2 separate regions of the Homo sapiens genome follow, and region 1 is linked to region 2. The links come from fine-mapping of genetic effects on gene expression. Tissue or cell type: tibial nerve. Region 2 holds a variant in brackets; the other region holds the start of a gene. All regions are shown on one strand. Distances are from middle to middle.

Region 1 (5,385 bases), 19 kb before region 2:
TCAGAATATCTTACTCAAAACCGTGGCTACCCACCACTTTTAAACATTTTCACAAATGGAGAAGGGGCAAAGAAAGAAAATAATTCCTTCTTCCTGTACTTGTAGCAGTGTTTAATTGCAGGGAGGTGGGTGACTGCTCCCGGGAATCATGCACAACACTGGCAAAAAACTGCCTGTGGAATGATCGGATATGACATCCATTCATGTGTCCCCTCATTATCTTTATTAGTCCTGAAGACAGATGACATGCTGACACGGAAAGTGGTCTCCAATCCCTTGCATTTCCCCTCACAAAACATACATGACCAATGCAAGGTATTATAATAGAAAACAGAAAATAAAATAACCTGGTAAGAGTGCGGTACAAAAAAAGAATATGAAGAGCCGTATTGACAACTATTCTCACAGATGTATATACGTACAGCAAACAGCCCAAATTAAAGGAGAATTCAAATAAATACATTCCGTGTTCAGACTGCTGTGGATAATTATTGATCCTGCAGTTGGAGCATTGTTTACCTCACACTGAACAGCAACTTAGAGAACCCCCTACCCAGACAGCCACCATCTTTACTTTCTATGGAAATGCGGGTGCCCACTGAGGAAGAGGATGAGATGGGATGAGAAGGGGAAGAAAAATAACATGGTCTTTGAACCAACGTTTTCCCCTTGTCCTGGAGAACTCTTTGTCTGGCTGCTGAACACGTTTGCCAGATCAAGGAAAAGAATCAAAACAAACAAACAAACAAAAAGAGTAGGCGTCCCAGCCTAATTACAATAGGTTCCCAACACATTGCAGTCCCAAGCAGAGCATCATTTGAATCTTGTGTTAAAGCATTTGCTCTCTCGGTTCCCCAATAAAACATGCCTCGCACACCTTCTCCTTTGCATTTCTACAAAGGTTCCCCCAAACGGCCCGCTCTGTGTCACTCCTTTAAAAATGAGGACGTGGGGCAGGAACACACTGAAATATATGTTGACGGTGACTTATTATCCTGACGATGATATATACATACAAATAAATCCCTCTACCCCGCACCCCCACTGACCAGTCCATTACGCACAGGGAGCGCTTTCCAGCTGAAGAGGAGAGCGTGCAGGAAACGTTATTTACGTGCAATTACAGGACCATATACCACGGCATCTGCATCCTACACAAAGCCCGAGATGGTGCAAGAAGATACACGCTGAGCATGGCACAGACCAGCCGCGGCAACACGGAGCCAAGCCCTCGTCCAATCAGATCGTTGTTAGAAGGTGGACCTCAGGGTCGGCCGTGCCCGATTAGCCTTCCCTATTATGACACCACGCTCTGCCCAACATCTATATCCCACCGAGAGCAAATCCAATTCGTGTGGTTGCTCATTTCTCAAACTGCCGAACCCTTTCTTTTATCTGCATCCCTGCTATTCGTTCCTCAAAAAGCCACCAGAAGGCCTCGGTGCCCCCTTTCCGCCTCGATTTCTCTTTTCACCTCTTCCCATTCCTCGAAAGGATTAAATGTTTATCTCTCCAACGCGCAAGCTGGAAAGGCGGAAGGCGAATGCCTCTATGCTGCTCCGGCAAGCGCCTGCGGGGCTGCGAAAAGTAAAGGCAACGAACAACGTGGGGGAAATCGTCGCGAATCGATCGGCCACAATAGTTGGAATCCCAGGAGCGCTCCAACTTACCCAAAATATGACATTGAAGCCAAATATGAAGTATTTGATGCAACAACTGACTTCAGGACCCTTGTAGTGCTTCCCGGACATCCTCTGGGTTCATGAAGACACTTGCCCCGGCAGCCCGAGTTTGGAGCTCCGAAGCACCGTTGCTCGGAGCAGCCCGGCGGGGAGCAGGAGCTCAGGGACACCGCACGGGGCCGCGGCGCTGGCGGCCTGGGCTCAGCCGCGCGGGGACCGACCGGCGGAGAGCGGCTCCCGCACCTCCAGCCCCTCGCGCGCCGAGGCCGCCGGAGCCGGGGTGGCCGCGAGAAAGCAGGGAAGCCGCGCGCTGCAAGCTCAAGCCTCGCCGACGCTAGCCCCGAACACAAAGCGAGCGCCCGCGTCCGTGCGCCAGGCGGTCGGTCCGTCGGTTCGTCCCCGGGCTTCGGGCAAAGGCGGCCGCGGCAGATGCTGGTGGAGACGCCGCTCGCTTGCTCGCCCGCCCGTTCGCGCGCGCCCTCCCACCCCTCGCTCCGCCCGCCTCTCGCTCCGCCCGCCCGGCCGGCTGCTCCTCCGCCCGCGCCGCCCGCAGCTCCGCCCGCCGCCCAAGCCTTGGCTAGGCGCGCGCGCGCACGGGGTCGGGCGCTCCCGGGCGGCGGTGGCACCACGTAGCCGCCTCCTTCCACCGCTCGCTTTATCCCCGCCCCTTCTCGGGCCAACCCCAAGCGCCGCTGACCCCGAACGTCGCTGCGGGGTAGGTAGGGGGTGGGAGGGTGGAGGACCGCAGGCGAGAGGGAGAAGGAAGGGCGCCCGGGGAGCAGGCTGGCAGAGTGACCGGGATTGATGAGCGGCGCAGCTCTGGAGGGACGCGGGCGAGAGGGTCGCTCCTCGGGGAGAGGGCTGGGTGAGTGAGGACCTGCGAGCCACCCCCGACACCCCTTCCAGGGTAGCCACACTGGCGCCCCCTCCTCCACAACAGGCTTATGTGGCTAGAGAAGATGCGATGCCACTGGACAGGGAAGGAAAGTCGTCGTGGACTTCGCTGAATGGAAAAGGGGGTAGTTGGGGAAGGTGGAGAAAAGAGCCACGGGAAGTGGGAGGAAAGGATGAAGGGATGGGACGTTGAAAAGGAAAGCTTCCTGAATCCCTGTGTGACTCTAACCCAACCTCCCCACCTACCGGAGAAATGGGTTTTATCCTAGAAATGGGGACGAGGAAAAAGAGATGGCTCAAGGGAGTCCTGGCCCGGGATGCGATCCTCGCCCTAGGGTCTATTGCAACCACACAAACCCGGACAGCGCACGCTCCCCCCTACCCCGACAGAATAGTGCCTAAGAAACCTGCTTGCCTCCTAACTCTAGGAAGGAATCCACAACGGATTCCAGGGAGGTCTTCTGGGGAATCTGAATTGGGTTTTTGGATCACGAACCATTAAGCTTTTGAACTCTGGGGAAGAATAGAACAGGTGGCTGGAAATTGTTTTAGAACCCTACCTGAGCAGGTGTGCTCATTAGTTGCTTATCCGCCCTCCTCCTGGAGCACTTTCATAGGTGTTGGCAAAGCAGGTACCAGTATTTCACGGAAGGAGAAGGAAGAACCGCCCAGGACTGTGTATAAATGTCTATGGGAATATTTTTAAGGATTCAAAAGGCTAGAAGGAGGTGAGATCAAAAAATTTTTCCAGCACCACCCAGTGCAACCCGATCCTGGACACAGAAATCTAAAAGATGATACTTAAATACTTGAGTTTGAGAGCCTCTAGTTATAAGGTTTCCTACGTAACAACCTCTCACTTTTCTCAAAAACTGGCTAGTTGACAACCGGCAGTCAAGTTTTGGCTAGTCAAGAAGCTACTTTTTCCTGCAATAAACCACATTTAGAGATAGTACTGGGCTTCAGCAGGATTGAGGCTATATTGAGGTCGCAAGTATGAACGAGGTACCCACAGAGATGGGAGGGCCAGGAGATCCTACTCATTCAGTACCTCAGAAGCTATGACACGGGATAACAGTAGCTTCAGCCCTTTGGATGAAATAATCCTCACTCCCTCAAAAGTGCTCTCTACCCACTCAAAACACAGGCCATACTACCACCAATCTGGTAGACTTCAAAAGTAAGGTCTTTCAGCAGCAGATTTCCTTGTTAACAGGAAGGTACTGACAAGCTTTACCTAAGCCTATTGGAGCTATGTTGTAATTCTGTATATAAATAGAACAGTCGCTGCAGGAATACTGGATGAGTCAGAAGAAAGGTCTGTCCTAAGCTGATGTGACACATTTCAAAAGGACCAGAAATTAGATGCAATTGATGACTGAGTTGATCTCTAAGTGGATTTATCTTTGAAATAAAAATCAGTGGATATCCCATATACCCGACCCCACACCCTCCCCCATTGTCAACATCCCCAACCAAAGTAGCACATTTGCTACAAATAGTGAACCTACATTGCCAGATCATTATCACCCAAAGTCCATAGTTTACATTAGGGTTCACTCTTGGGGCTGTATATTCTATAGGGTTGGACAAATATAGAATAACATGAACCCACCCTCATAGTATCATAGTATCATACAGAGTATTTTCACTGCCCTAAAAGTCCTCTGTACACCACCTATTTATCCCTTCCTCCCCCCAGTCTCTGGCAGCCACTGAAGTTTGACTGTATCCCTGTCTCCTTAGTTTTGCCTTTTCCGGAATGCCATATATAAGGAATCATACAGTATGCAGTCTTTCTTTCAATTTTGCTGTGAAACTAAAACTGCTAAGAAAATAAAGTCTTAAAAAGAAAAATCAATGGAGAAGGGAAAGGTAAGATAACTAATCAGTAATTTGGAGGGGGGGGTGGAAAAACTAATTGAATTATCTCATTTCGTATATCCAAAATAAGTTCTATGAGGATTAAGGAGTTAAATATATTTTAAAGCAGACCAGAAGGAAAAATATTTGTCAAACCTCTGTATAGAAGTATTTCTCAACTTAGAGGCAATAGAAGGAAATAATCAATGGATATGATTGGGTAATATCTTAAACACTTCTACGTGTCCAGCTTTTTTTAGTGTAAGCTAAACCAGAAAAAAAATTGGCAGCAAACATGAAAAATAAAAACCTGAATGTCTATATTATAAGTAGGGCTCATAGAGCTATAGTAAAATATAGAATCGCAGTGGTTGAGTATAAACAGAAAATAAATCATATAAGAAATAAAATATATGGGGAAATTAATCTAGTAATAAATGAAGTATACATTAAAACTAATAAAGATACAAAAATAATGAGCACTGGTTAGCACATACATTGTTGGTGTCCTTATGAAATAATATGTCCATTTGGAAAGCATTTTGGCTGTATATATCAGGTCAGAGTGCTCCTACATTTTGACTCAGCAGTCCCTCTTCTGGGAATCTACCCAAAGAAATACCCCAGCAGATGGAAAAAGTTATACACTGCAAGATGTATATCATAGCATTATTTATATTGAAGACTTGGCCAGAAATTAAAGATCAAAGAGTAGGGGTGATATCCAATTCCTTGTAGTTACTTGGACCACAATGTTCCTTCACATTCTGTGCCTCTGCACATGTCATTTAGAGTTTCTGCCTGGGGCATTCTCCTTGTCTCTTGTCTGTGAGCTGATTTCTCTTATTCTTCACTACTTTTGTTCAATGTCTCGGAGGCTCCTTCTTTATTCCCTCAACACCCGCTGTGTTCTTCCATCCCGGCACTTAAAGGCTGCCTGTAAGAA
Region 2 (5,385 bases):
AATACAAAAGAATAGACTTGCTTCTATACATGCTTAAAACATATTTGGTAAGAATCAACAGCAATCCCTGATACTATTATTTTAAGAGGAGAAGTAGAAAAAATACTTACTAAATATAAGAAAAAGTATTCGATTAAAACCAATAGCCATCATTATATTTAATAGCAAAACATTAGTTATATTCCCATTAAAATATGCACAAAAAAGGAATATTGTTTAATATAGTTCTGAAAGCTGTGATCAATGCAATAACACATGATACAAAAGATATACTATTAACAAAGAAGAGATAAAATGATACTTATTTTGTGACAGTTATTGTATGACTATAAGTCCAAATAAATAACTTGAAAATTGTTTAAACACAAGGGGCTGAAAGTAAGATAGGCAGAAATCAAAAGCATTCCAATATAATTGTAATAATCAGCTAGAAACTTTTAAATGTATGTATATGTATGTATATATATATATAGTTTACCTTTTCTAAAACAGATTTGAGATGGTTTTAAAAAAAAGCTCATATGGTAGTAAGAAGAAAAAATATATAAAACATCTAGAAGTAGCTTTAATGCATAATGTCTTTCAAATAGTCAAAGAAAAGAACAAAATTTTATTAAGATATATTTATTAAAGTTTGAGAAAATGGAAAAATACACTATGTTCCTGGGCAGAAAGATGTTGATATAAATATTTAAATATTTTCCAAATAATGTAGGTTTAACCAAGACATTCAACAAGTATTTATTGAGCACCCACTGTATACCAAGCAAAATGCTAGGTACTAGGGATACAGTCATGAACAACACAAAGGCTCTGCCCTCCTGGTGTTTCAATTCTTGAGGAGTTGGCACAACAAACAAATAAAGCCTTAATATAGTATAGTGTCAGGTAACGATATGTGCATTGAATAAAAATAAAATAGGGTTAAGGGATAGAGAATGAAAGAAGGGGGATGTGGTCAGGGAAGGTCTTTGAGGGAGTAACATTGGAACAGATACTTGAATAAAGTGTAGGAGAGAGCCGTGTGGCTATCTGGGAGAGCAGTATTTCTTGCAGAGGGAACAGCAAATGCAAAGGCCCCAACATGCTACCAGCCTGATATAGTCTAGAAACTGCAAGAAATGTAGTGTTGCACTGGGCACGGTGGCTCATGCCTGTAATCCCAGCACTTTGGGAGGCCGAGGCGGGAGGATCACCTGAGGTCAGGAGCTCAAGACCAGCCTGACCAATATGGAAAAACCCCGTCTCTACTAAAAATACAAAAAAATTAGCCGGGTATGGTGGTGCATGTCTGTAATCCCAGCTACTCGGGAGGCTGAGGTAGGAGACTCGCTTGAACCTGGGAGGCAGAGGTTGCGGTGAGCCGAGATCACACCACTGCACTCCAGCCTGGGCAGCAAGAGCAAAACTCTATCTCAAAAAAAAAAAAAAAAAAAAAAAAAGAAAAGAAAGAAAAGAAAAGAAATACAGTGTTGCTAAAGCAGAGTGCGTAAAGTGGAGACCTGTGGGAGATGAAGATGGAGGTAATGTGAGGGCAGATTGTGCAGGCCCTTGTAGAACAGGACTTTGGGGTGTAAGTCTTGTGGTAGCTGTTTTGACCAGGTGAGGATGTGATCTAATAAGGTTTTTTTTAAAGAGCTGTCTGGTCTTGATGCTGAGAATAGACAGGGTACAGGTGAGGGGAAAATAGAGCAGTAAGAACAGTTAGGAGGTTATTTCAGTAATTCAGTCTGGAAAAGATGGGCTTGTACTTGTATAGTAGGGGTGGAAAGAACCAGAAGTAGATTTCAGATAGATTTTGGAGATAGACATAAAAGATTTGCTGATGGGTTGGGTATGAAGGGTGGGACCATGGGAGGAATCCAGGTTGGTCCCTTGATTTTTGTCCTGAAGTTACTGGTTAGATCACGGTGCTAATTGCTTCACTGGGGAAGACTGGGAAAGGAGCAGGAGCTGGAGATTGAAACCAGGAGTCTTAACACATGTTAAGTTTGAAATGTCTGTTAGACTCCAAGTGGAAGTGGTGATGTTGAGTAGGCAGTTGCTAAAAGATCATGAAACTCATAGAAACATGTTGGGCCATCAACAGATAGATGGAATGTACAGCCAGAGGATTGGATGAGGTCATCGACGGAGAGAATGCAGAGAGAATCCTGGGGCTCACCAACATGAAGAATTTGGGACAAGAAAGAAGATCCAGCAGAGAAGACTGAAAGAAGGCAACTAATGAAATAGGAGAGAACCTGGAGAGCACAGAGTCTTAGAGGCCAAGAAAGTGGTTTAATATAATCCGTATCAAAGCATTTGTGGTTTATTTTTGTTAACTGACAAAAGGATTCTAAAACATACCTGAAAAGTATAATTCACACCTAGGATAATGGATCATTCTGTCACATTGTTCCTTTTTCACAGCTGATATGAACATGATATTTTCATGACTTTGTAAAATAAAAATGGAATCTTTCTAATTTTTTTAAAAAAACTGCTTACTTATGCAAGCCTTCTGTCTCTCACTGTATAACCCCTCCACTTTTATACGGGTCACACATGTTTCTGTCACTTTCCTGGAGCCCTTGTAGCAAATTAATAACATGTAGCACATGCTTGAAGAAAAATTTGTCTAGGACATTTTGTTTTTGAGATTCATAAATTGACTCTATTTTACATAAGAATCTATTATGCCATAGGAAGCTTATTAAACCCTTGAGCAGGAACAAATTATTCAATAAATGGTGATGAGATGAATGCCTAGAAATACAAAAACTTTGATTTCTCACTTTATTCCACACACCAAAGTGAATTCTAGATTGGTTAAACATTTAAATATTTAAAAATTTAACAGTAGAAACATTTGA[A/C]GAAAACATGGATATTTATTTATAAAACTTCTACAAGGGGGAAGTTTTCCTATACTAGAAATAACAGAAAAAACTATAAAGACCAGCAGATCTATAAAAATGAGAAATTCTATACACAAAACAACTATTAGACAAATATTAAAATGGAAAAATGTTTTCCATAAAATGTCAAAGTTAATATAGTTTCTACATAAAGACCTCAGGCAAACAGATACGAAAACTGGTAGGGTCCCTGTTGATAGCTGGCCAATATAATATTTATGAAAGAGATCATTACCCAAAAGAGAAAATTCACCCAGTCAACACATATATGCAAGCATGTTGATCCTTGATAGTAACCAAAGAAACAACACAAAAAAATCGTGCTCATTTTTCACTAATACTATTACTAAAGATTAGTTTTTTTGTTGTTTTGGTTTTGTTTTTGACACAGGGTCTCACTCTGTTACTTAGGCTAGAGTGCAGTGGCACAATCATAGCTCACTGCATTCTTAAATTTCTTGGTTCAAGAGATCTTCCCACCTCAGCCTCCTGAGTAGCTGGGACTACAGGCACATGCCACCACTCCCTGATAATTTAAAACAATGTGGGTTTTTTTGTAGAAATGGGGTCTGCTATGTTGCCCAGGCTGGTCTTGAACTCCTGACCTCAACGAGTCCTCCCACCTCGGCATCCCAAAATGCTGGATTACCAGTGTGAGCCACTGCACCCAGCCCTAAAGATTTGTTTTTAAAAATAATAATATACATCCTTGGGAAAGGTTCAGTTAAGGGGACTCTCTTTTGTACTGATGATATAAATTTAGACAAGCAATTTGAATTTGTATCAAGATCCCTCAAAAAGAAAAGTCTGTATTCAGTGGGTGACTTGGCATCTCCACTTGTAGACTATCTTAAAGAAATATAAAGCTTTTCATAAAAATAAATAAAAATATATATCCCATTATTTATAATTACCTACAAATGGAAATGAAAGTTTTGCAGATACAGTGGACCTGAAATGGTTAAATTAGAAAACAGCCTTTCCTGTTGGAGCCAGAAAATAATTTCTAATAACGTTACAAAGGAAGCTTCACTGCATGCATTCTTTTGCCCAGTGGGGATCTCTTTGTAGCCCTGACCCCAATCAGTAAGTTACTTCGCCCACCAAAAGAAGAAGAATTTAGCTTCCATCCACACAATGTGGGCACAACCTACAGGCCGCTGACCAGGGAACATGGAGAACCAGATTAAAGGGCTGGAAAACTACAGGATCATGCAAATAGAAAGGGAAGCTTCCTCTGATAACAAACAAGCAGCAATAGGCATTCTTGCAGAGTTTATTGAAGGAAAACAATGTCTCCTTTGCAATAAAATCGATATAGGCTATTATTTTGAGCAAACTCAAAGACAGAATTTCTGCAGAGAAATTAGGGTGAAAAATGAAAGAAAATGACATTCCTGAAAATACTGCCTTAGGACAAGGCTCTTGAGGAAGATCATCAGCAGAACTTAGGTAAAGTCCAAAGCAGGGGAATCAGGCTCAGACTTCACACTCCAAGCATGCATTCATTTATTCACTCATTCATTCTTTCAGTAATTTATGTGTTGACGTAGCAAATATTTATTGAGCAGCAAATATATGCTAGACACTAAGCAAATATTGGAGGTTAAATTACCTTAGTGAAAAAGACAAGAAAAGTGTGCTTTCATGGATTGTATAATAGCAGCAAAGCTAGGCCTTAAAACAATAAAAAAAATTATTTAAGTTCAAATTGATAAGTACTAACAACAAAGAAGTTTTGAAATCTGTGAGAGTGAGTGACAGGAGAACCTAACCTAATCAGGGGATCAGATAATTCATTTGGGGGTTTCTAAGAGATTTGAAATTTTTAATGAACTTTTAAAGGTGAAAGATATTTACCTAAGGTAATCATTTTTACCAATTCCTTACTGGGGACAGAAATGGAAACTTAACTATTTGTAGTTTACTGAATACACAATATACATATATTTTCTATAGAGTTAAATATTAACTATAGGTTTTATACCATTGTATGAATTCCAGCAAACACATTCTATTATTTCTATAAAGACCTAAATTATTCTTTTGAATAGATACTTAGGCTGAGAGGAAACTTCCCATCTATTTAGTAAAGAGTATGGTATTTAACATCACTTTCTTCTGTCTAGTTATTCTAACAATGCCAAACCATAACCATTTAGTATAGGCATTTCAAGATAATACATCAATTCAAAACAAGTATTCATTGAGTGTGTGTTGTGTGATAAGCTGTGTTTTTGCAGCTGAGATAACAGTGGTGAGGAAAACAGACAAGGTCCCTGACTTTCTGGAATTTACATCTTAAAATGAACTTAAATTGTTTCTAATGTTTTAATTGACATTTCCAATAGCAATGGGAATGACCACTTTACTGCATATTGTATTCTCATCAATAGTGAGTACTATCATTACTTGCTTTTATAGAAGGAAAGTACAAAAAAAATGAAGGCATTGTTATGGGTTGAATTGTGTCCCCCCAAAAAAGATA

What was found.
Region 1: it holds the start of TSPAN5, and the variant in region 2 is fine-mapped to the expression of TSPAN5 in tibial nerve (GTEx, PIP 0.95).

What each region holds. Positions count from the first base shown.
Region 1 is chr4:98,656,476-98,661,860 of GRCh38, forward strand. It overlaps TSPAN5 (tetraspanin 5), which reads right to left and starts at 2,136. Exons shown (of 8, transcript NM_005723.4): 1 at 1,671-2,136. The coding sequence starts at 1,751. It overlaps TSPAN5-DT (TSPAN5 divergent transcript), which reads left to right and starts at 2,427. Exons shown (of 3, transcript NR_148380.1): 1 at 2,427-2,547; 2 at 4,323-4,451. LOC112267901 (a long non-coding RNA gene) reads left to right here and starts at 2,248. Exons shown (of 3, transcript XR_939016.3): 1 at 2,248-2,397. RefSeq lists silencers at 1,701-1,860, 2,114-2,293.
Region 2 is chr4:98,675,886-98,681,270 of GRCh38, forward strand. It overlaps LOC112267901 (a long non-coding RNA gene), which reads left to right. Exons shown (of 3, transcript XR_939016.3): 3 at 2,090-2,763. Among named protein-coding and RNA genes, the nearest start is that of TSPAN5-DT, 20 kb to the left of the region's middle. The variant A/C (reference allele first, on the strand shown) is at 2,856.